Homo sapiens: one gene and its partners. The protein of the gene in region 1 interacts with the protein of each later gene in a pairwise test. Each region holds a gene or a part of one and is shown in the gene's direction. Other genes may lie near its edges.

Region 1 (3,500 bases):
CCTCCTCTTTCTCCCTCCCTCCTTCATTCCCTCCATCCCTCTCTTAACAGCTTGAAGATAATGGAATCACTCACTTTTTGTTCATAATTGGTAAGATTTTATTTAGTAGAATGATAATTCATTTTCAACAGCACTTTCTTGTTTGTTCAGTGGTTAGCAGGAAGAAGATGAGCCTTAAGTCTGAACGCCGAGGAATTCATGTGGATCAATCGGATCTCCTGTGCAAGAAAGGATGTGGTTACTACGGCAACCCTGCCTGGCAGGGTTTCTGCTCCAAGTGCTGGAGGGAAGAGTACCACAAAGCCAGGCAGAAGCAGATTCAGGAGGACTGGGAGCTGGCGGAGCGGTAAAAGGACTTAACTAGGGGCGGTTGAACAGTGACGTGACTGGATACATAGTTCTGTCACCGTCTAAATACATTTTTTCACTTCTGCTTTGAGCTATCAGCAAGTCAGTTTAATATTAAGGAAAAGGATGTTTTCCTCTCTTCTTCTCAGTCAGCTTTTAATGAACAGCTTTCAGTAGTTTCTTCATTTTGTGTTTGTCTTCTGATTATTTTCTTTGGGTTGTGTTAGTTTTAGTTCTCAAATGTAGACAATAAGCTCCTTGGAGTGGAAGAATGGAGATAGGCATATTTCCTGGTGAAGATTAAATGAGCTAATAAATTTGACGTACCCACTGCAGGGCTTGGAAATGGCACTCATCAAGCATTATTTCCCTCATTCTTTTAATATATATTTAGCATGGCATCTAGCTCAGTGATAAAACACAGTAGTAGAAATCTGTTGACTTGTATACATAGTCATTGCATTGTAGAAATTTAACTTATATTTAAAAATTAGGTTAGCATTTGGTATTATCCGGAAATATAATGATGTTAAAAATTAAACGATGGGCCGGGCGCAGTGGCTCACGCCTGTAATCCTAGCACTTTGGGAGGGTGAGGCAGGAGGATCATCTGAGGTCAGGAGTTCGAGACCAGCCTGACCAACATGGTGAAACCCCCTCTCTACTAAAAATATTAAAAAAGTTAGCCGGGCATGGTGGTACGCATTTGTTATCCCAGCTACTTGGGAGACTGAGGCAGGAGAATTGCTTGAACCCAGGTATCGGAGGTTGCAGTGAGCTGAGATCATGCCACTGCACTCCAGCTTGGGAGACAGAGTGAGACTCTGTCTCAAAAAAAAATAAATAAATAAATAAATAAATGATGGGATGGCTAGTGAGCATAGGAACTAATAAAATGCCATGAATAATGTTAATTCTTTGCCAGAGCATTCTAGAATTCTAAAACTGCTTCAACAGAAGAAAGTCAAATGGAATTCTGCCAACTCCTCTAGCTAGTTGTTTGTTTTTTTTTTTTCATCCAGTCAGCCAATATTTGTTGAGTGACTCCTTTGCTGTCATTTGTAGTGAACTCAGAGAATTAGAAATTACACATTGCTTTCAGTGACTGTGTTCAATCAAAGAGAGAAAATTTTAGCCGAGAACATGAATGATCTCCTCAGGGTTTCCACTGCATGCCTGATGCTGTCAGTAGCAGATCCTGTTTCAAAAACAGAGTAGAGGCCACTAGGCACAAACTCCCTCAGCTTCCTCCCCTCACCACATAAAAATGTCCTAGTACCTTTATATTAACTTCTTGTCTGTCCCAGAGAAAGAGGGGTCCCGATTCCACCCTCAGACTTAGCACCTCCACCTGTGATTTTTGTTTCTATTTCTTACTGCTTTTAATTGTGACCCTGCTAAATCTCTCGGAAAGCTTGTAAAAGCAGTGATTGCTGGACCTTACCCACAGAGTCTCTGATTTTAGTGGCTTGGGAGTAAGACTAGAGAATTTGCATTTCTGACAAGTTGCCTGGTGATGCTGCGCTGCTGTCTGGGGAATCATACTTGGAAAATCATTGTCTTTTAGATAGTGCTTGTGCTTTTTGTTTGTTTGTTTGTTTTTGAGACAGGGTCTTGCTCTGTTACCCTGGCTGGAGTGCAATGGTGCAATTTCAACTTACTGCAACCTCTGCTTCCTGGGCTCAAGTGATCCTCCTGCTTCAGCCTCCCAAGTAGCTAGGACTACAGAAGTATGCCACCATGCCCAGCTAAGTTTTGTATTTTATGTAGAGACAGGGTTTCACCATGTTGCCCAGGCTGGTCTCAAATTCCTGAGCTCAAGTGATCCGGCCGCCTTGGCCTCCCAGTGTGCTGGGATTACAGGCGTGAGCCACTGCACCTGGCCTGTGTTTGGGAATTAATACAGGTGGTTCACATGCAGCTAATCCAAAGCCAAATTTATTGCTTTTATTTATTATTCTCCGCATTCTGAACATTTTCCTCCTAACCCTTCTCCTGAGTCAATTAATGGCATCACTACTTACCAAGTTAGCTAAAAAACCTTGGTTTCATTCTTGATTTCTCTTTTATCTCCCATGCTAGCTACAACTTGACCAAGTTCTATTTCTTCCAACTCAGAAAAGTCTTTTGAATTTTACCTTTTGTACTCCTATTTTCCAGGTGCTTATTTTCTTTTACTTAAACCTTTATAATATACTCTTACTTCTTGTTCCTGTCTCTAGTTTCTCTACCCTTCAAGTTGTTCACACAGCTACCTGCATGATCTTTCTAAAGTACAGATCTGACAGCGATAACTCCTTGGATTTACAGTCTTTCTTGCTTCCCTACCACATGATGAAATCCAGAATAGTGGGCTCAGCAATCAAGATTCCCTACCCTCTGGAGCCTTCCTGTATATCCAGCATCACAGTTCATCACACGCCCAGTGCTCTGGCTACATTCAGCTTGTTGTGAAGCAAACCACAGGCTTGCACATTTGTAGTTCCTTCTTTCTGGAATGTCCTTTCACTTAGAATCCTATTCAGCCTTATTAGTCAGGTGTGGTGGTGTGCGCCTGTAGTCCCAATAACTTGGGAGGCTGAGGGATGAGAATTGCTTGAACTCGGGAGGCAGAGGTTGTAGTGAGCTGATACCATGCTATTACACTCCAGCCTGGGCGATGGAGTGACACTCTGTCTCAAAAACAACCAAAAAAAGGATCCTATTTATCCTTTAAGACCTCACCCAAACATCACCGTTGTAAAGCCTCGTCAGACTCCCCCAGCAGATTGAGTTGTTCTTTCCTGTGTTCTCACAGCACTCAACTTTTACTCTCTGATGTAGCAGCTGTCCCATTCTGTAGCAGTTGTTTACTTACCTTTTTGTCTGTTCCAGCCTTGAGCTTGTTAGGGAAAAGGATTAGACTTGATTTCTTTCATGTAACCCTAGAGCAGTAGCTGAATGAGTATGAGAAGACCCCATTTGAAATCTGTAGTGCATGAAGAGCCGTCCATCCTGTAGCAATGTGAGACCTCAGACTGATTTGGCATATTTAGTCTCTAGGTCTAAAATCTTTAGATCCTCCTGAATTAATGGAGTAATAACCTTCACATACAGAGAAACCTTGGAGAATATCTAGGTCATTCTAATCCTCTCTTGAATTGCAGACTCCA
Region 2 (2,786 bases), on another chromosome or scaffold:
GCCCTGGTTTGGACCAGGGGAGGAGACTAATATGGGGTCTTGGTGCTATTCCAGGCCCAGGGCCAGAGAGGAGGCCTCTAATGAGTCTGGGTTCTGGTCAGCAGATGAGACCTCTACAGCGTCTTCTTTCTGGACTGGAGAAGAGACAAGTGTCAGATCATGGCCCAGGGAAGAGTCCAATACCAGGTCCAGGCACAGGGCTAAACATCAGACTAATCCCAGGTCCAGGCCCAGATCCAAGCAAGAAGCCTATGTTGATTCCTGGTCTGGATCTGAGGATGAGGCCAGCAACCCATTCTCCTTCTGGGTTGGAGAAAATACCAATAACTTGTTCAGGCCCAGAGTCAGGGAGGAGGCAAATATCAGGTCCAAGCTCAGGACAAATAGAGAAGATTGTTTTGAATCTGAGTCTGAAGATGAGTTCTATAAGCAGTCCTGGGTTTTGCCTGGAGAAGAGGCCAATAGTAGATTCAGGCACAGAGACAAAGAAGATCCTAATACTGCCTTGAAACTCAGGGCCCAGAAAGATGTTGACAGTGATAGGGTCAAACAAGAACCCAGGTTTGAGGAGGAAGTCATTATTGGGTCCTGGTTCTGGGCAGAAAAAGAGGCCAGTTTGGAGGGTGGAGCTTCAGCAATCTGTGAATCTGAGCCAGGAACTGAGGAGGGGGCCATTGGCGGATCCGCGTACTGGGCTGAGGAAAAGTCCAGTTTGGGGGCTGTGGCCAGAGAAGAGGCCAAGCCGGAGTCTGAAGAAGAGGCCATATTTGGGTCCTGGTTCTGGGACAGAGATGAGGCCTGCTTTGACCTAAATCCCTGTCCTGTGTACAAGGTCAGTGATAGGTTCAGAGATGCAGCTGAGGAGCTTAATGCATCCTCCAGGCCCCAAACCTGGGACGAGGTCACTGTTGAATTCAAACCTGGTCTTTTTCATGGGGTTGGCTTCCGATCCACAAGCCCCTTTGGAATTCCCGAAGAGGCTTCTGAAATGCTTGAGGCAAAGCCCAAGAACCTGGAACTTAGCCCAGAAGGAGAAGAGCAGGAATCTTTGCTTCAGCCTGATCAGCCTAGTCCTGAGTTCACATTTCAGTATGATCCTTCCTACCGGTCAGTCCGGGAAATTCGAGAGCATCTTAGGGCCAGGGAGAGTGCAGAGTCTGAGAGTTGGTCCTGCAGCTGCATACAATGTGAGCTGAAAATTGGTTCTGAAGAGTTTGAAGAATTCCTTTTATTAATGGACAAAATTCGGGATCCTTTTATTCATGAAATATCTAAAATTGCAATGGGTATGAGAAGTGCTTCTCAATTTACCCGAGATTTCATTCGAGATTCAGGTGTTGTCTCACTTATTGAAACCTTGCTTAATTATCCATCCTCTAGAGTTAGGACAAGTTTTTTGGAAAATATGATTCACATGGCTCCACCTTATCCAAATCTAAACATGATTGAGACATTCATATGTCAAGTGTGTGAGGAAACCCTTGCACATAGTGTGGATTCCCTTGAGCAGCTGACTGGAATAAGGATGCTTAGACACCTCACTATGACTATTGACTATCACACACTGATTGCCAACTATATGTCCGGGTTTCTCTCCTTATTAACCACAGCCAATGCGAGAACGAAGTTTCACGTTCTGAAAATGCTATTGAATTTGTCTGAAAATCCTGCTGTGGCAAAAAAACTATTCAGTGCCAAAGCTCTTTCAATATTTGTGGGTCTCTTTAACATAGAAGAGACAAATGATAATATTCAAATTGTTATTAAAATGTTTCAGAATATCAGTAACATTATAAAAAGTGGAAAGATGTCCTTAATTGATGATGATTTCAGTCTTGAGCCGCTTATTTCTGCATTTCGTGAATTTGAGGAGTTAGCTAAGCAACTACAAGCCCAAATAGACAACCAAAATGATCCTGAGGTGGGACAACAAAGTTAATATGATTAACCACCTGCCGCTGATCAGCCTTATGTTCCCAAAGAGCCCTGAGTAGTGCTTTGGTGTTCACAGTCTGTTTTTTTGTTGTAACTTATATTTTTTAATGCTGATGTTAACTTTGTCAAACTCTTGTTTTGAGCTGGATCATTTTGTGGATGCCAAATGAATATCAAAACTGAAAACACATTTGTTGATATTTGTCTTGCTGTCCAGATTGCGGTATTTTTCAGTATTAAGTTTTCAATGAACTGTGTCACCTAAGTAAGCTACCCTGCTATTCGTTGTTTAAATATATGGTTCTCTATTTGAGTCTGTGTTTTCAATAAAGTTCTATGTTAAAATTGGCATAAGTGACCCTTCTTCAGTTTAAGAACCATGTACAGATAAATCGTGTGCACTTACAAACATAGGTAATTATTAGTATGACAAACATGCGCTTATTAGAAAATTCTGTTCTTGAGTTAAGAAGGGAGAGATTATTGTGGGCCCTGATACTTGAGGAATGTTTCCGAGAAGAGGGACCCACTTAAATTGGTCAGGATAGAACAAATTGGTCAGGATAGGAGAGCAAGACAACTTGCCCGCCTGCTTGCCCAATTATGAGCCTTCCCAACAAGCAACCTAAAATTAATACTTCTTATAGGACCCATTTAAATTACCATCTTAGCCCTGGGATTTGCCTAAGGGTAGGATAAGACAAATCATTAGGTTGCTCTTGGAAGTGGGCAGTGGTGGTTTGAAGAAAAGTGTGTAATTGAATAATCTGTTCTAGTAGCATGGATGAACCCAGTCTGCTTGAAACAAGTAAAAGGAGTTTGATGAGAAATGCAGTTAGAAAGTTGGGAAG
Region 3 (3,500 bases), on another chromosome or scaffold:
GACACATGTGAAAACTGAATGTTTGCTCTTACATATACCAGAATCCTATGTGATAATTCCCAGGGCAGAATAAGGCCAGGTGACCAGGGCTGGGAGGTGGCACATACAGCACGCGTCTTCTTTTTTTCTTTTGGAGGCAGGGTCTTGCTCTGTCACCCAGGCTGGTGTGCAGTGGCGCGACTCACAGCTCACTGCAGCCTCGACTGGCTGGGCTCAAGCAGTCCTCCTAACTCAGCCTCCCGAGTAGCTAGGACCACAGGTACGCACCACTGCGCCCAGCTAATTTTTTAATTTTTGTAGAGATGGGGTCTTGCTCTGTTGCTCAGGCTGGTCTGGCCTCCTGGCCTTAAACGATTCTCCCACCTCGGCCTCCCAAAGTGCTGGGATTACAGGCGTGGGCCACAGGGTCCAGCTAGGACGTGTGTCTTTAAGGGCATTTTTGTCTCTCTTTTGATGAAATCTGCATCGTAAACTCGCAGCCCTGGCTTACTGTAACCCCTTTGGGGTTAAGCTTCCACACCTCTGTGCACTGGTCGCTTTGCTGCCTGGTTCATTTTAGAAAGTGTTTTGTTGAGTGGGGAGGAAACCCAACATTATTGAGTCCCTCCCTGACTTGGCGTCTGAGGGCGTTGTCATTTGGGATTCAGGCAGGAACTGCCTGGGCCCTGTGGCCTGCAGAACGGCGGCAGGAAGCTAGGTTTTTGTTGGCTTACGGTACAGATATTGACCTGTGTTCATTTGGTCCCTTGTAGCAAGAAGCCACCGCAGAGCAAGAGAACAAACGGTATGAAAATGAATATGAAAGGGCCCGAAGGGAGGCGCTAGAAAGGATGAAAGCTGAAGAGGAGAGGAGGCAGCTGGAGGACAAGCTCCAGGCCGAGGCACTGCTGCAACAGATGGAGGAGCTGAAGCTGAAGGAGGTGGAGGTGGGCACAAGCCCCTCTCAGCCGTGACCTCCTCCACAGCTGCTCGTTAGCATGAGATGGGCACTTGAGAGGCTGCCCTAAGAAGAGGCCATAGCAGGGCTGAGATTCTGCAAAGGGCGGCAGCAGCCGGGTTCTCCCTCTCACATGCATCCCCATCTGCCTTGTGCTTTCCCATCCTCCTCGTTTGCGTGCCTGAATTCCAGAACATTAACGACATGGAGCCAGTAGCTGTTCTCTTAGAGGTGGTTAGCGGCCTGCTGTTGGAGAACCTTCTTAGAATCTGGATTTTCCAGTGCACTGAGTAGACACAATTTAATCGGGTGGTCTAGCACCCAGCTCTCCGTGGGGAGCAGGTTTCGGGTCTCGAGGCATAACTGAGGGTTTTTGGTCCAGGGGCTGTTTTTGGAGAACATGGCACAGTTTCCTTGAAAGAGATCTTTCTATTTAGAAGAGGGAGGCCCATGCTCCTGTGACCTCACTTCCCCTTGCCCAGGCCGTGATTTAGCAACTACATTCTTAGTGCCTACTGCTTATTCTAGGTGCTGAGCACTGGGTTGGGAACTAGAGATAGAGCCTGACCAAGGCCCACAGTCCTGACCTCCTGGTGGGGGCTGTGTCAGGTGGAGGACAGTTGTTAAGTTACAGTAAGAGTGGACCAGTACAGGATCCTGTGGGAGTTTAGAGTTCAGGGCTCAGAAAGGCCCTTGCAGGAAATGGCTCAGAGGGGATTGGATGAGTAAGTGAGTGGTGGGAGGGGATCGTGACCACCTGCATGGCCAGGCCTCTGTTGGTGTAGTGTCTGCGAAAAATGGAGATGGAGAATGAAGGAAGATCTGATTCCCACGATCTCAGATCTCAGTCGAGCTTACTCTCATCATCACCACAGGCGACCAAACTAAAGAAGGAGCAGGAGAATCTGTTGAAGCAGCGGTGGGAGCTAGAGAGGCTGGAGGAAGAGCGAAAGCAGATGGAAGCCTTCCGGCAGAAGGCAGAGCTGGGGTGTGTGTCAGAAGGGCCCCCCACTCTTCCCAGGCGGGTGGGCCTCTTGCTTTTTCAGACTTGCATTCGTGTTGCTGAAACCATAAAGGAGACAGCCTGGTCAGCAGTTATCTAACTTCTATTTAATTCTTTCTGAGATACTGAAGGCAGCCCACATTTGATTCTCCTTCAGGCGTTTCTTGAGACATCAGTATAACGCTCAACTCAGCAGACGCACACAGCAGATCCAAGAGGAGCTGGTAAGTCTGAAGAGACAGCCTGACATCTTTCTTAGCCTCTTTTGTAAAAAAGGCCTTCCATTGCTTAGTATATGAGTGCATTCTCGTAAGAATGAAGACAGTGAGGGGTTGGGGGAAAGGGGAGATGTTGGTCAAAGGATACATCCCTCGGTTGGGAGATCTGGGAGTAGTGTCCATCATGTTGATCACAGCTGATGATACCATATTGTATTCTTGAAATTTGCTAAGAGAGCCAATCTTAAGTGTTGTCACCATGAAAACCAACTGTGAGGTGATGGATATGTTAATTAGCTTGACCGTAAGGATCCTTTCCCAGTGTCTGTGTGTATACATAGATGGATAGATACAGGTATCAAAACATCAAATTATTTTTCAGTAACTGTGTTACTTAAAAAGCAGCACAACACAAAGTGAGATCACCCCCTTGACCAGCACCTGCAATCTCTGTCTATCCCCAGAGGTGCCTGTTTAGTTCACATCTTTCTAGATGTATTTACATACAGAGAGGTGGAGGTTTTTGTTTTTGTATTTAAATCTAATTGAGGTTGCATTCCTCAGCATCTTCAATTAACACTAAATCTCTTAATTTTTAAAAAGATCGGCCAGGTGCGGTGGCTCCCGCCTATAATCCCAGCACTTTGAGAGGCCAAGGCAGGCGGATCACCTGAGGTCAGGAGTTTGAGGCCAGCCTGAATGACATGGTGAAACCCCATCTCTACTAAAAATACAAAAACTAGCCGGACATGGCCGGGCGTGGCGGCTCACACCTGTAATCCCAGCACTTTGGGAGGCTGAGGCGGGCGGATCACCTGTGGTCAGGAGTTTGAGACCAGCCTGGCCAATGTGGTATAACCCTGTCTCTACTAAAAAATACAAAAATTAGCCGGGTGTGGTGGCAGGCGCCTTAATCCCAGCTACTTGGGAGGCAGAGACAGAAGAATCATTTGAACCTGGTAGGTGGAGGTTGCAATAAGCTGAGATCAAGCCGTTGCACTCAAGCCTGGGGGACAAGAGCGAGACTTCTCTCAAAACAAGAACAACAACAACAAAAACTAGCCAGGCATGGTGGTGCACACCTGTAATCCCAGATACTCGGGGGGCTGAGACAGGAGAATTGCTTGAACCCAGGAGGTGGAGGTTGCAGTGAGCCGAGATTGCACCACTGCACTCAAGCCTGGGCAACAGAGTGAGACTCTGTCTCAAAAAAACAAAAAAAGGTCATTATGCTTAGATTGAACCTGTTCTTTTCAGATAGCTCCTTTGTATTCCTAAGTACTTTGATGAGCTCCCTTGAAGTGAGGGAGACAGACCTAAGCTGCCCTTCCCATCCCTGCCC
Region 4 (2,932 bases), on another chromosome or scaffold:
ATGGGTGCTTCCCTTGGAGGGTGGGGTGGGAACTGCGAATCAAAGCTCCTGCTGATATGCCCCGTCTGCACTTTCACCCCAGCCCTGCAAGAAAAGGTGGCTGAAGTGGAAACTCGGCTGCGGGAGCAACTCTCAGACACAGAGAGGAGGCTGAACGAGGCTCGGAGGGAGCATGCCAAGGCCGGTGAGCCTTGCCAGGGTGGATAGGGCCTTCCAGGAAGAAGGAAGTGTTAAGACATAAGGTTATTATTTTCCCCTCAAAGTGTGTTCAAAGCTTCATTACAGGAAGTAATGAAGGTATCCAGGAGTAGCACAGATGAATTATCACATCGTGAACACACCCATGTAGCCAGCACCAGATTAAGAAACAGCATATGGCCGGTCGCGGTGGCTTATGCCTGTAATCCAAGCACTTTGGGAGGCCGAGGTGGGTGTATCACCTGAGGTCAGGAGTTTGAGGCCAGCCTGGACAACATGGCGAAACCCTGTCTCGACTAAAAATACAAAAATTAGCTAGGCCTGGTGGTGGGCACCTGTACCCCAAGCTTACTTGTGAGGCTGATGTGGGAAGACTACATGAACCCGGGAGGTCGAGGCTGCAGTGAGCCAAGATTGTGCCACTGCACTCAAGCCTGGGTGATAGAGAAAGACCATGTGTCAAAAAAAGAATTGTGTAATGAATGTATCTTCTCTAACTAAATATAGCAGTTAACATTTGCCACATTTGGTCTCTTATCTATATACACACATATTTGTACATCTTTTGAATCACTTTAAGTTGTAATCATTTAATGTTTTGTTGTTGTTGTTGTTTGAGACAGAGTCTTCCTCTGTCACCAGCTGGAGTGCAGTGGCATGATCTTGGCTCACTGTGACCTCTGCCTCCCGGGTTCAAGCCATTCTCCTGGCTCAGCCTCCCAAGTAGCTGGGATTACAGGCGCCCACCACCATGCCCAGCTAGTTTTTGTATTTGCAGTAGAGACGGGATTACACCATGTTGGCCAGGATGGTCTCGAGCTCCTAACCTCGTGATCCGCCCGCCTTGGCATCCCAAAGTGCTGGGATTATAGGCGTGAGCCACCACGCCTAAGTAAGTTGTAAACATAAGTTGTTCAGCCGCATCTCCCAAAGCCAGTAAATTCTCCTATATAGCTGCAATCATCACACTTTAAGACAGTGAACACTAATTGCACAAAATCTAACCCAGTTCATGTTCAGATTTCCCCTGAGGAACTCCAGGATGGTTCAGGGATGAGGAAGATACTTAGGTTCAGATTCCCAGGCTCCTAGAGCATCAGCCCACCCCTCCAACTGTACAGAAGAGACAGATCCACAGAGCAGAACAGCCTCCCCAAGCCACAGAGTTGGTGACCCAGCGTTTGTTCCTGTCTTCATGGTGCCTGGCTGCCTCTGGCCTGACTCACACCTGCCTCCTCTGTGCCTTGGCCTCTCTGTAGTGGTCTCCTTACGCCAGATTCAGCGCAGAGCCGCCCAGGAAAAGGAGCGGAGCCAGGAACTCAGGCGTCTGCAGGAGGAGGCCCGGAAGGAGGAGGGGCAGCGACTGGCCCGGCGCTTGCAGGAGCTAGAGAGGGATAAGAACCTCATGCTGGTAGGAGACAGGAGGGCAGACAGGCAGACACTAGGGCCCATCCTGGGCTGGTTCCTGGGCTAGAGGTGTGGAAAGAGGATGGTGAGGGAGGCTCTATCCGGGCTAGGTTTAACCCTCTCCTTCCCAGGCCACCTTGCAGCAGGAAGGTCTCCTCTCCCGTTACAAGCAGCAGCGACTGTTGACAGTTCTTCCTTCCCTACTGGATAAGAAGAAATCTGTGGTGTCCAGCCCCAGGCCTCCAGAGTGTTCAGCATCTGCACCTGTAGCAGCAGCAGTGCCCACCAGGGAGTCCATAAAAGGTCTTGGGCCAAGCACAAAGGGACAAGGGACAAATGCGCGCACTTCAGGAATCTCCTCTTCAGACTCTCGCATGATGAGTGTTGTTCTCTGCGGTCCTTCGAGGCCCTTAGCCTCTTTTAGCGATGCCCAGCTTGGACCAAAGAGCCTCCTCTCTCCCATTCCTCATTTCCTGTGCCAGCCCTGTTTCCTCTGTAACCACGAGCACCTTCCCTTGTCTGGTGCTCATCTGCTGTCTTCCTTCCCAGGGTCCCTCTCTGTCCTGCTCGATGACCTGCAGGACCTGAGTGAAGCCATTTCCAAAGAGGAAGCTGTTTGTCAAGGAGACAACCTTGACAGATGCTCCAGCTCCAATCCCCAGATGAGCAGCTAAGCAGCTGACAGTTGGAGGGAAAGCCAGCCTGGGGGCTGGGAGGATCCTGGAGAAGTGGGTGGGGACAGACCAGCCCTTCCCCATCCTGGGGTTGCCCTGGGGGATACCAGCTGAGTCTGAATTCTGCTCTAAATAAAGACGACTACAGAAGGAGCCATTGTTTGGAAATGTTATTTCTGGGAATCTGTGGGAATTCTCCCTGCAGCCATCTCTCTTGGAGATTGTGAGAAGTGGTCCCACCCATAGCTCTCTCTATGGGTGGCACCTTTTCAAATCCTTTTTCTAGGCAGCTTTGGAAATGTTTGGGAAGCTCCTGCTTTTCTTTATTCTCAACTTTTGTTTTAAAACTCTTTTCTTCTGGAAGATGATAAATGCTAGGAGTGGGGAAGATGAAACATTCACTCGTTCAACAGGAATGTCAGAGCTAGGCACTGTATTAGCCTGGGGGCCACTTGGACCCTGAGAGCCTACATCCTAGTGGGAGAGCGAGCGAGCAGATGGGACCTAAACAGATGAACGAGATCGTTTCAAATAAGTGCTTGAAGAGAAAGTACAGTACGATGATATGATAGAAACTGACTCTGGGGAGAGGCCTCTGAGCAGGGGACCTTGTGCAGAGGCCTGCCTGAAGTGGGCTCCTGTGGAGGCCAGGA
Region 5 (3,500 bases), on another chromosome or scaffold:
TGGGTTAATTAATGATTAAGAAATCACCCAGAAAGCAATACAGAAGGAGCAGAGTTAGAAACGATGACTTAATGATAGTTGAGGAGGTCCAGCAAACATCTGATGGCAGAAAGAAATAATAGAGAATGGGAAAGAGGCAATAATTGAGTTAATTATTAAGAATAGGCATGAATTCATAGGTTCAAGAAGTATAATACTTAAGGAGGATAAACCAAATAAATCCATATCTCTGTACATGATAATAAAGTCACCAGAGAGAAAAAACAGACAACCTACAAAGGAGCAAAGTTAAACTAACAGTTGACTTCAAGAACAACAAAAATCAGAAGACAGTGGGATGAGTGCTTGAAAATGTCTTTCACATTCTCTATTATTTCTTTCTGCCATTAGATGTTTGCTGGACCTCCTCAACTATCATTAACTCATCGTTTCCAACTCTTGCTCCTTCTGTATTGCTTTCTGGGTGATTTCTTAATCATTAATCCAGTAATTCTTACTTTCCCTATGTCCAGACTGCTGTTAAACCTGCTCGTTTTGTAAATTCAATGACTATATTTTCTCATTTCTAGAAGTATTACTTGCTTTTTCAACATTTCAACTAAAAAATTCTGTAACAAGTTAAACAGTTGTGGTTGAGTGATTGACTAAAACTATGAGAAATTATCAACAGTCCCCAGTAAAAAAGCTGTCTTAAGGAAACTGAACCCAGAAAGGAGTAAATTGCAGAAAGGATTACTGTGTAGACACTTTGGTAAACATGAAGAAATCTGAATAAATCTTATCAAGAATTCACTGTTATAAAATAGTAATAATTATTATTTAGGGTTATTTTAAAAGGTAAACTTGATAAAAGTGACATGTAAGACAAGAAGGGGTGGTCAGAATTAAAGAATGTTATGGTTTAAGTCAAACATGCTTGTAAAGTATGTGAAAGAAATGGAATATGTAATTTTTAAATAAATTGAGGGGTAAAAGTAAATACAGAAAATTTAAGCAAGTAAATTAGAAGGTAGGAGAGGAGGAAAAAAGCACAGAAAACACAACAGAAAGTACAAAACAGTATGGTTAAATTCAAATATAAATGGAAATGGACTTTCTGGCTCAAAGACAGAAATTGGTGTTATATTTTAAAGATCTATCGGCCAGGCGCGGTGGCTCATACCTGTAATCCCAGCACTTTGGGAGGCCAAGGCGGGCGGATCATGAGGTCAGGAGATAGAGACCATCGTGGCTAACACGGTGAAACCCCGTCTCTACTAAAAATACAAAAAATTAGCCAAGTGTGGTGGCAGGCGCCTGTAGTCTCAGCTACTTGGGAGGCTGAGGCAGGAGAATGGCGTGAACCTGGGAGGCGGAGCTTGCAGTGAGTCGAGATCGCACCACTGCACTCCAGCCTGGGCGACAGAGCGAGACTCCGTCTCAAAAAAAAAAAAAAAAAAAAGATCCATCTATATGTTTATAAGAAATATACCTTAAAAATAAAGATATGGAAAGGTTGAAACTGAAAGAACTTTTAAAAGACGTAATTTTTAAAAGGCATAGTTATATTGATATCAGGCAGAAAAGGCTTAAAAGCAGAAAGCATTATTAAAAATAAAGGCAATCATTGCATAAAGATAAAAGGAAAAAATAGAAATATACACATTTTAAACTTTATTTTCTAAGAATGTGTTCTCAAAAATTTGACAAAATTAGAATGAGAAGTTGACCCAGGGTCAGTTTTCACCATCCACCACCACCCAGAAAACCTACCATCTAGTAGGATTTTGACAGACCTTTCTCAGAATTTAATAAATTTGGTGGAAAAAACTTAGTGTAATACATTTAGAATTTAACAAAATAATTAACAGGCTTGGTCTTACAGAAACCACAAGTTTTTGTAAATTATGTGTGAATAGCAAAAGCAAAAATACTTACAACTCCTTTAAACACACTTCTAAATAACCCTTGAATCAAAGAAGTCATAATGGAAATTGGAAAATGTAGAGCTAAATAATAATGAAAACACTACATGTTCAGACTTTTGAGATCTAACTCAGTAGAACACAGAAGAGAAATGTATAGCCTTAAGTGTTTACACTTTCAAAAAGAATGAAATCTAAAAACCAAGCTAATAAGAGTCTGACACTGAGAGTCATTCAGAAGAAAAGTAAACTCATAGAAGTAGAAAGTAAAATAAGATTAGAAATCAGTAAAATAGACAACAAACAATAGAGAAGATAACAAAATCAAAAGAGAAGATCAATAAAAACAAAAACCAGGAAAAATAGATAAAATTCTAACATGATTGATTCCTGCCAAATCTGTGAGAGTGAATCAACCCAGTAGAAAAATGTACAAATGAATAGTCAGATTCAGAAGTAGAAACCTTAATAAACCTCTGAGAAGACGGGGAACTTCACTAGTAACTGGAAGTACAGTTAAAAACTACAGCAAGCAGTTTCCAGCTAAGAGATTCAGTAATTTAAAAATACCCAGATTTTATAAGAATTATGGATAAAAATAATTTGCCAGTGCTGCTGGTAGGAGTCTGATGGCACAGTCACTCTATCTGAATGTTAAAGATGTCTGTGCCCCACTAGTAGGTGTGTTGATCAGAATAGTGTTTTTAAAAACTAAGTTTGAGAATCATTGGTGGTTTGTAAAGTCAATTTAGTAATTTCAACTAGCATTTTTTAAATGAAATAGGAAATATACTTTTGTGAAGCATTAGCTTTACTTATATATATCTGTACATATACTTGCATATATGTGTGTACTGGGTTGCAGTGTAAAATGAATTTCTTATTGTGGGTTGCAGTGGAAGTTTGAAGGCCCAGTGCCTAAAGAAATCAGTTCATCTACAAGGAGACAGGTGCAAGAATGTTCATTTAACATTGTCAGAGCAAAGAGTGGGAAGACAAATATCTCTGTGTAGGACATGGATAACTTGGGGCATGTTCATAAAATGGAATATAGTATCTGTAGCATTAGAAAATGAATGGATATTGGGATAGTTTTCTTAAAAGAGCCCATTTTCCTAGTTTTACTCTAGAAGATGTCTTCTGATCCTGAGACCTCATTTCTTTGCTTGACCCTGTATCAAAATTTTATTTCTAAAAACAAATTCAAGAAAGATGCATTTTAAAAATCAACCATGCTACCATGGTAACAATTTAAATAAGAGCTAAAGGTTAAACCCTTGAAATCGTATTATGGTCTGATTATTAGTTTTGGTTTAATTCTGGTTTAAAGAAAAAATAATTCGTGGATAGGGACTTAATGTAAAAGTTTATTTGCTGGTAAAATTCAAATGCTATAAAATACCCTGGCTGCCCTCTTTGAATAGCAACATATTTATATATTATAGTGTGTAATTAAAGTATATAATATTATATGTAGTAAATACTATGTAATATTTAGTATTAGACTATCCCCTTTATTTATTGTCCTTTTTGAATTTAGTTTTGACGGTTTTACTTCCTTAAAAGTCTGGAGTTCCCACGTAATCAAAACTGTAA
Region 6 (3,324 bases), on another chromosome or scaffold:
CAGCTTCATTCTTTTTGCTTAAGATTGTATTGGCTATGTGGGCTCTTTATTGGTTCCATATGAAATATAAAGTAGTTTTTTCTAATTCTGTGAAGAAAGTCAATGGTAGCTTGATAGGGATAACACTGAATCTATAAATTACTTTGGGCAGTATGGCCATTTTCACAATATTGATTCTTCCTATCCATGAGCATGGAATGTTTTTCCATTTGTCTGTGTTCTCTCTGATTTCCTTGAGCAGTGGTTTGTAGTTCTCCTTGAAGAGGTCCTTCACATCTGTGGGCACTAAGTCCTTTTCTCTCCCTCTCTATTCAACTGGAAATTTATCTTTCAAGGCACATTGTAAATGTTTTCTGCTTTCCAAACCTTCCCTTAGGCCTACAGGCAGAGCTGACCTCTGTGTTCCCATCTCACTGTGTGTACCCCTGGACTATTGCATTTATCTATCTGTATTTTAATCACTTGACATTGACTTCTTCCTGAGATGGTGGTCTCTTTAGGGCAAGGACTGGGCCTTTTCCACCTTTGAACCCCTCAGCACTCAACAGTGTGCCCAGGATGTGATAGTTAATAATTGTGAGTTGAATTATTAATTCAGTCACCTCTATCCACCCATTCTTCTCCCCACAGGATCGTCTCAGGAGTCGACTGGAAGCTCTGAGCACGGAGAGAGATGAGATTGAGGATGTAAAGTGTCAAGAAGACCAGAAGCTTCAAGTGCTGCTGGTACAGGCCACGTCACTGGCTACCTTTTCCTTTGAAGGTTTTCTTAAGAGACTCTGGGGAAACCCGTTGGCTGGTATCTGTTTCCTGGCTGAAAAGAACTGACAAACTGTTCTCGTTCACCTTCCTGTGGCTGCACAAAGGCATTTGGGATCTCAGACCATGAGCACTAGAAGTGGTTCTGATGTCTTGCAATCCAAGATCCATCTTGTATATCACATTTTACAGAGCAGAAAACTTAGGACCAGAAAAGCAATGCTCCCAAGGCCACATAGCAAAGCTGAAGTTCATGAGGAACCTGGATTTCTTGACCCTTAATTCATTGTTCTTTCCATCCTAGTCTGTTTGCCTGAACACACCACCTTCAGATGGGAAGCTTGGGGTCAAAAACATATGTTAGTGTCGGGATTCTAGTCCTGACTACAGGCTGACCTTGAGGAGAGTAGGCTGATGGTGTGGCTACATCTGGATCCCTCACGCCTCTCTTTTCATGCTATAAAGTTATGGAGGAATCACAGTGTGAGGATTTCTGGTACCTTGACCAAGGAGAGAGTGTGGGGACAAAGCAACCTATCCACCATCCCTCAGCTCTCATCAACGTATGCCCTGTAGTTGGTGATTTCCACGGCTAAAACCAAAATTACACACTCTCCCACTAAGTTGTGTTGACTCCAATCACAACTTCCTTTTGCCTCTAAGAAATTATTACAGTCTTCCCCACCTAACTCTAAGAAGGCATAGTAGGGTTATGATGGTATTGTAGTTGTGGAAATATTTTTGAAAAGTTCAACATCATTCTGAGAGCATAATGTAGCATTATTATTAGAGTATCTAGCTAAGACAGTAGCACAGCCCTCATCATTGGTAAGTTCATCCTGAGACCTAACTACTTCTAGGCATATTAGTAAATGGAATGAGTCTTGGACCAGTTGCTCCCTATCCCTGTTAATCAATAATAAGTATATAGATGATCATCCTGGAAGCTATCTCTGAGCCCCTTCCTAACCATGTCTGCCTTTTATCCCTTGAAGACTCAGATCGAAAGCAAGAAGCATCAGGTGGAAACAGCTTTTGAGAGGCTGCAGCAGGAGCTGGAGCAGCAGCGATGTCTCCTGCTGGCCAGGCTGAGGGAGCTGGAGCAGCAGATTTGGAAGGAGAGGGATGAATATATCACAAAGGTCTCTGAGGAAGTCACCCGGCTTGGAGCCCAGGTCAAGGAGCTGGAGGAGAAGTGTCAGCAGCCAGCAAGTGAGCTTCTACAAGTGAGAGACACTTCACCACTTTGTAGGATAAGAGAGGGACTCCACGGGGAAGGGGGTGGGCACCATGCTTTGGGCTGGAGAGAGGCAGGAAAGGGAAGTGGAGAGAGGTTAACGGGGTGCAGATCCAGAGGGGCTGGAGACTTGCCCAAGTCATACACTGTGGTCATGTTAAGGGGTTTAGGGTCAGACAGTCTTGGATTTGAATGTTGGCTCTTCCAATTGTGTGACTTGAGTGAGTCTCTTAGCCTCTCTAAACATGGGGACAGCAATAGCACCTCCCTCATAAAGTTATTGCAAAATTATAAGAAACAATCCATAAAAAATGCTTGGCATGATTCCTGATATACAGAAAGAACTCAATAACTGGTGTCTGCTATGGTTATGAATATGTGATCCTGGCTCACATCAGGTCCAGCTGATAACTGAAGGCAGGCCCCTGCTCTCTACCACCTCCTAATCATTGCAGACACAACCCACCCCCACGATAAGGCTGAAACAGGGAAACCAGCACAAATGAACTGACTACAGAAACCCAAATTAGTAAGAAAACATGATGTAAAAGAACAATCTAATGAGTAGGTAATTAAACAGGACAACTCTCTGCAGAAGGAGAGTTTTGAGTTCATATTTTAAGGGAAAAGTGATGTACAGAATCCCTGACAGGAAGGACTTATGGAAACTAAATGTATGTTCTTGTCTTTCTTTTGCAGGATGTCAGAGTCAACCAGAGCAGGTAGGGCCCACTCCCCGGTCCTGCCTCCTTTTACTCAACATCAAGACTGAATGGGAAGGGGCAGGGGCACTTACTGCCACCCACTTTGCCAGGAAAGCAAAGGCACTCTGGCAGACACACTGTCTCATTCAACTGTGCACAAACAGTCCAAACTCACTAAAGATTTGCGTTCTAAAGGTTCATTTTTAAATTGATTGGTTGGTATTGGGGACACATTTTTTCCCCTAGAAGTGAAGTTATAAATAATAATCATGTTTTTAGGTTGATCCAGGAACATTTATTTAATCTATGAAATTATTAGTACTTGAGTCAGTATCTAACACCATTTAAAATGTAATTTAAAGGGGGAATACTTTCTGTAGACTATGATAAGCATGGAAACCAGGAATACCAGCCTGTTCTTTCATTCATTCATTTTTTACACACATCTCTGGTTTCCTTCAGAATTTTCTAATGCTACTGTAAAAGGACAGCCACCAGGAGCCAGTGGCATTGTAAATGCATGGCCCTTTCCTTCCCTGTCTGCTATAAGCATTAGCAGTCTGCACTGAGATGAAGAGAGGTGTAGTGACTAGGGAACAATTGTCACGTGCTTTGTGCCTATTC
Region 7 (3,500 bases), on another chromosome or scaffold:
CAAGAGACAGCTGTATGCTGAGAACTTTACTGCACTACCACAGTTCAGACTGTTCAACTTAGGCCTAGGCTTCTGCCCTTCATGGTGAGATAATGAATAGAACTCAGTCCTTTTGTCGCTGTGATACAAACAGGTAGTTTCACAGTAATCCTCTTTCTAAACAAAAAAATACATATTGTCATTCCCTTTTGAAGATACTGGGATATCTCTTAATAAAAAGGAGATGACACCCATTCCAGGTGTGGAAGAACCTGACTGTGCAGCTCTGATTGGCTGTTTCTCCCCCAGAGCCTGAACAGCCTATTTTAGTAGCATCTAGTGGGGTGGCTGATGAGGAGAGGATACTGTGAGTGTTCATTTCCTGTGGCATGTTGCCCAGGATGCCAGTATAGAAGTGCATATGAGCTGAATGGCAAATACAAGAAGAGCTGAATTGTTTCTGTCACCTAAGGCTCAGCTAAGTGACTCTCTGTCACTAGGGAGGAATGGGGTGGGCAGACCTTCAGCCACTTCAGGGGCCCGAAGAGCCAAGATGTTTCCTGATGTCAGCTAATGTCTCTGGCCCCCGCATGTCCCTATGGGGCTTGCAGCTTTTGGGAAGTCAGCTGAGTAATGGCTCTGCCACTGCTTTTAATACTGACGTAAATATGCAATTTGAGGAGCAGTGAATTGTATGCTTAGATAATCTAGAAATGTCATGTCCGTGAGGCCTGGGATCTCACCAGCAGCCTGTCTGTTTCCTGCCTACCTGCCCAAGACCTAGTACAAGTGACAGTGCACATGACCTGTCTTGTGGCTGAACCATGAGATTTTCAGTCACCTTCTTTTTTTTTCTTTTTTTTTTGAGACGGAGTCTCACTCTGTCGCCCAGGCTGGAGTGCAGTGGCGTGATCTTGGCTCACTGCGAGCTCCACCTCCCGGGTTCACGCCATTCTCCTGCCTTAGCCTCCCGAGTAGCTGAGACTGTAGGCGCCCACCACCACACCCGGCTAATTTTCTTGTATTTTTAGTAGAGACGGGGTTTCATGTGTTAGCCAGGATGGTCTCGATCTCCTGACCTCGTGATCCGCCTGTCTTGGCCTCCCAAAGTGCTGGGATTACAGACGTGAGCCACCATGCCCAGCCTCAGTCACCTTCTTAACCCCTGACAACAGCATTCTCCGCCTTAATCTTCAGTTTATTTTCAACTTTAATTTTATCAGTTTTTAAAGTAGGTAATGTATGCACAGGGAACAGAGGATTCAAGGGTAAGTAGTGAAAAATCTGCCTCCCACCTCTGCCTACCACCACTCAGTTCTCTTCCCTAGAGACAACCAATATGGATAGACTCTTGTGGAACCTTTCAGGGGGTCTCCAGATTTCTTTTTGGTTTTTGAGACAGAGTCTCACTCTTTCCCCCAGGCTGGAGTGCAGTGGCACAATCTTGTCTCACTGCAACCTTTGCCTCCCCGGTTCAAGCGATTCTCCTGCCTCAGCCTCCCAAGTAGCTGGAATTACAGGCATGTGCCACCACACCTGGCTAATTTTCTGTATTTTTAGTAGAGATGGGGTTTCACCATGTTGGCCAGGTTGGTCTCGAACTCCTGGCCTCAAGTGATCCATCCATCTTGGCCTCCCAAAGTGCTGGGATTACAGGCGTGAGCTACCATGCCAGCCGGGTCTCCAGATTTCTGTCTAAAGGAATAGTCAAGTTGTGTTGACCCTCACTGCTCCATAACTTTCTTCCTGTGATTCCTCCACTGTGGAAGAAATTGGGCTACTAAAGGAAAAATGTCCTCAAACATCCCTTAAAGATTTAAATTGCTAATTTAACTTAAACATAAACATTTTCCGATTCCCATAGTGGGGAGGATGGGGGAGGAAAGCATAAAAGATTTAAATTTTGCTACAGATGATCGTGAATTTTTTTTTTTTTCAAGATGGAGTTTCACTCTTTTTGCCCAGGCTGGAGTGCAATGGCGTGATCTCAGCTCACTGTAACCTCCACCTCCCGAGTTCAAGAGATTCTCCTGCCTCAGCCTCCTGAGTAGCTGGAATTACAGGTGTCCATCACCACACCCGGCTAATTTTTTGTATTTCTAGTAGAGACAGGGTTTCACCATGTTGGCTAGGCTGGTCTCAAACCCCTGACCTCAGGTGATCCACTCACCTAGGCCTCCCAGAGTGCTGGGATTACAAGCATGAGCCACTGTGCCTGGCCAATCCTGATTTTTCTACTATCCCTTTAAAACAATTTTAGCAGGAAGTAAAATCTTCTAAAACAGGAATGGACCAGGAAAGTGCACGGGCTGTAGCCCTTTCCTCCTCAATCTGGGAAGATCTCTTTGCACTTCAGACACTCCCAGGTTAATTGGGGCAATAGGCTTGCTTGGAGATTTTTCTTAAAATGTTTGGAAAACTAATTCCCAAATAGAATTCCACCCACACACACACCCCGACCCTAACCCCTGGGCCCACAGCCTGCCTTGGGTCAGTGAGGCTTTCTGCTCATGGCTTTTGAACTGCTGGAATAAGGGAAGTAAATTAAGAAAAACCTCATTAGAAACAATTTAGCTTCTCTCTTTATGGCATAACTACCCGCAGTAAAAGGGGAAAAAATGACCTAGCCATAGTTTGATGGGGCCCTGGCAGAGGCTTCATTTCTCCAAAAGGTAGATATTACTGGACACTCCTGAGATGAGAAACAGTACTTCCTTACAGTTTAGAAGATCCTGGAGTATGCTTGATTGTGTTCATTGACTGTTGGCGCACTTGAACTTACCTGAGTTTTTCCTAATGCTTCCCCCATCCTCCCTCCTCACCACCTTGCCTGGACACTAGTTTGCACAAGTAAGACCATTCAATGCTTCTTCTCTGCATGTTTTTTTCATCTGCCATCTCGCATGCAATGCTCTGCCACTGTGCTATTGTTGTAGCTAATCGTTTTAAATTCCAGTGAGTCCCTGGCTGGGTCACTGAGGGGCCTGCTGGCCTTATGTTTAAAGATCATTAATCAAGGGTTAGAAACAGCTATGATCCATGAATCATTGTCTCTTCCCCTTGTGAGGTCTGCAGAGTAAAACTGTCCAGTGGAGGATGGGATAGAAGCATGGAGGCTTTAAATGTTTTTGAACATGAGGCATTTAGGGGCTGGAGTTAGAAGGCAGTTTCCTTTCTCCTCCTCAGACTAAGATCAAATGAAGATTTTTTTATGGAATGACTTTTAGCTATTCTAGACAAGGATAGAAAACAAAAGGGATGACAGCCACAGTCCTCAGTTCTTGGCTGTATGTGGATTATCTCTGGGAAAAACTCATTTTAATATTCCCCTATGCTAGGTCTTTAGAGAAATGTAAATGGGATGAGAAGGAGGTTTATATGCAATTGTAAGATAACTTGGATTATTTGTGCTTTTGTGAGTCTTTCTGTTTCTGCACCCCTCCTTTTGAAATGGATGGATGGTCAGCAATATATTGATCCATCCCGGACAGTTTTACTCTACAGCTCTGTCCATCTTCCTT

The links.
Region 2: the proteins of RABGEF1 (region 1) and GPRASP2 interact in binary tests that used the Homo sapiens proteins (3 or more experiments, as listed by UniProt).
Region 3: the proteins of RABGEF1 (region 1) and TCHP interact in binary tests that used the Homo sapiens proteins (3 or more experiments, as listed by UniProt).
Region 4: the proteins of RABGEF1 (region 1) and CCHCR1 interact in binary tests that used the Homo sapiens proteins (3 or more experiments, as listed by UniProt).
Region 5: the proteins of RABGEF1 (region 1) and THOC1 interact in binary tests that used the Homo sapiens proteins (3 or more experiments, as listed by UniProt).
Region 6: the proteins of RABGEF1 (region 1) and TRIM15 interact in binary tests that used the Homo sapiens proteins (3 or more experiments, as listed by UniProt).
Region 7: the proteins of RABGEF1 (region 1) and DCTN2 interact in binary tests that used the Homo sapiens proteins (3 or more experiments, as listed by UniProt).

Annotation. Positions count from the first base shown.
Region 1 is NC_000007.14:66,771,733-66,775,232, forward strand, and holds part of RABGEF1 (rab5 GDP/GTP exchange factor), read left to right. Parts: intron 1-150; coding exon of another isoform or gene 151-167; coding exon 168-346; intron 347-1,958; coding exon of another isoform or gene 1,959-2,095; intron 2,096-3,494; coding exon 3,495-3,500. UniProt on the Homo sapiens protein: Rab effector protein acting as linker between gamma-adaptin, RAB4A or RAB5A. Involved in endocytic membrane fusion and membrane trafficking of recycling endosomes. Stimulates nucleotide exchange on RAB5A. Can act as a ubiquitin ligase.
Region 2 is NC_000023.11:102,715,448-102,718,233, forward strand, and holds the end of GPRASP2 (G-protein coupled receptor-associated sorting protein 2), read left to right. Parts: coding exon 1-1,939; 3' UTR 1,940-2,286; downstream 2,287-2,786. Other genes in the region: ARMCX5-GPRASP2 (G-protein coupled receptor-associated sorting protein 2), read left to right, coding at 1-1,939. UniProt on the Homo sapiens protein: May play a role in regulation of a variety of G-protein coupled receptors.
Region 3 is NC_000012.12:109,906,774-109,910,273, forward strand, and holds part of TCHP (trichoplein keratin filament-binding protein), read left to right. Parts: intron 1-752; coding exon 753-926; intron 927-1,812; coding exon 1,813-1,925; intron 1,926-2,097; coding exon 2,098-2,164; intron 2,165-3,500. UniProt on the Homo sapiens protein: Tumor suppressor which has the ability to inhibit cell growth and be pro-apoptotic during cell stress. Inhibits cell growth in bladder and prostate cancer cells by a down-regulation of HSPB1 by inhibiting its phosphorylation.
Region 4 is NC_000006.12:31,141,939-31,144,870, reverse strand, and holds the end of CCHCR1 (coiled-coil alpha-helical rod protein 1), read left to right. Parts: intron 1-82; coding exon 83-184; intron 185-1,457; coding exon 1,458-1,609; intron 1,610-1,736; coding exon 1,737-1,908; intron 1,909-2,154; coding exon 2,155-2,279; 3' UTR 2,280-2,432; downstream 2,433-2,932. UniProt on the Homo sapiens protein: May be a regulator of keratinocyte proliferation or differentiation.
Region 5 is NC_000018.10:219,548-223,047, reverse strand, and holds part of THOC1 (THO complex subunit 1), read left to right. Parts: intron 1-3,500. UniProt on the Homo sapiens protein: Component of the THO subcomplex of the TREX complex which is thought to couple mRNA transcription, processing and nuclear export, and which specifically associates with spliced mRNA and not with unspliced pre-mRNA.
Region 6 is NC_000006.12:30,166,546-30,169,869, forward strand, and holds part of TRIM15 (E3 ubiquitin-protein ligase TRIM15), read left to right. Parts: intron 1-630; coding exon 631-726; intron 727-1,754; coding exon 1,755-1,985; intron 1,986-2,695; coding exon 2,696-2,718; intron 2,719-3,324.
Region 7 is NC_000012.12:57,540,693-57,544,192, reverse strand, and holds part of DCTN2 (dynactin subunit 2), read left to right. Parts: intron 1-1,202; exon of another isoform or gene 1,203-1,217; coding exon of another isoform or gene 1,218-1,247; intron 1,248-2,820; coding exon of another isoform or gene 2,821-2,829; intron 2,830-3,500. UniProt on the Homo sapiens protein: Part of the dynactin complex that activates the molecular motor dynein for ultra-processive transport along microtubules. In the dynactin soulder domain, binds the ACTR1A filament and acts as a molecular ruler to determine the length.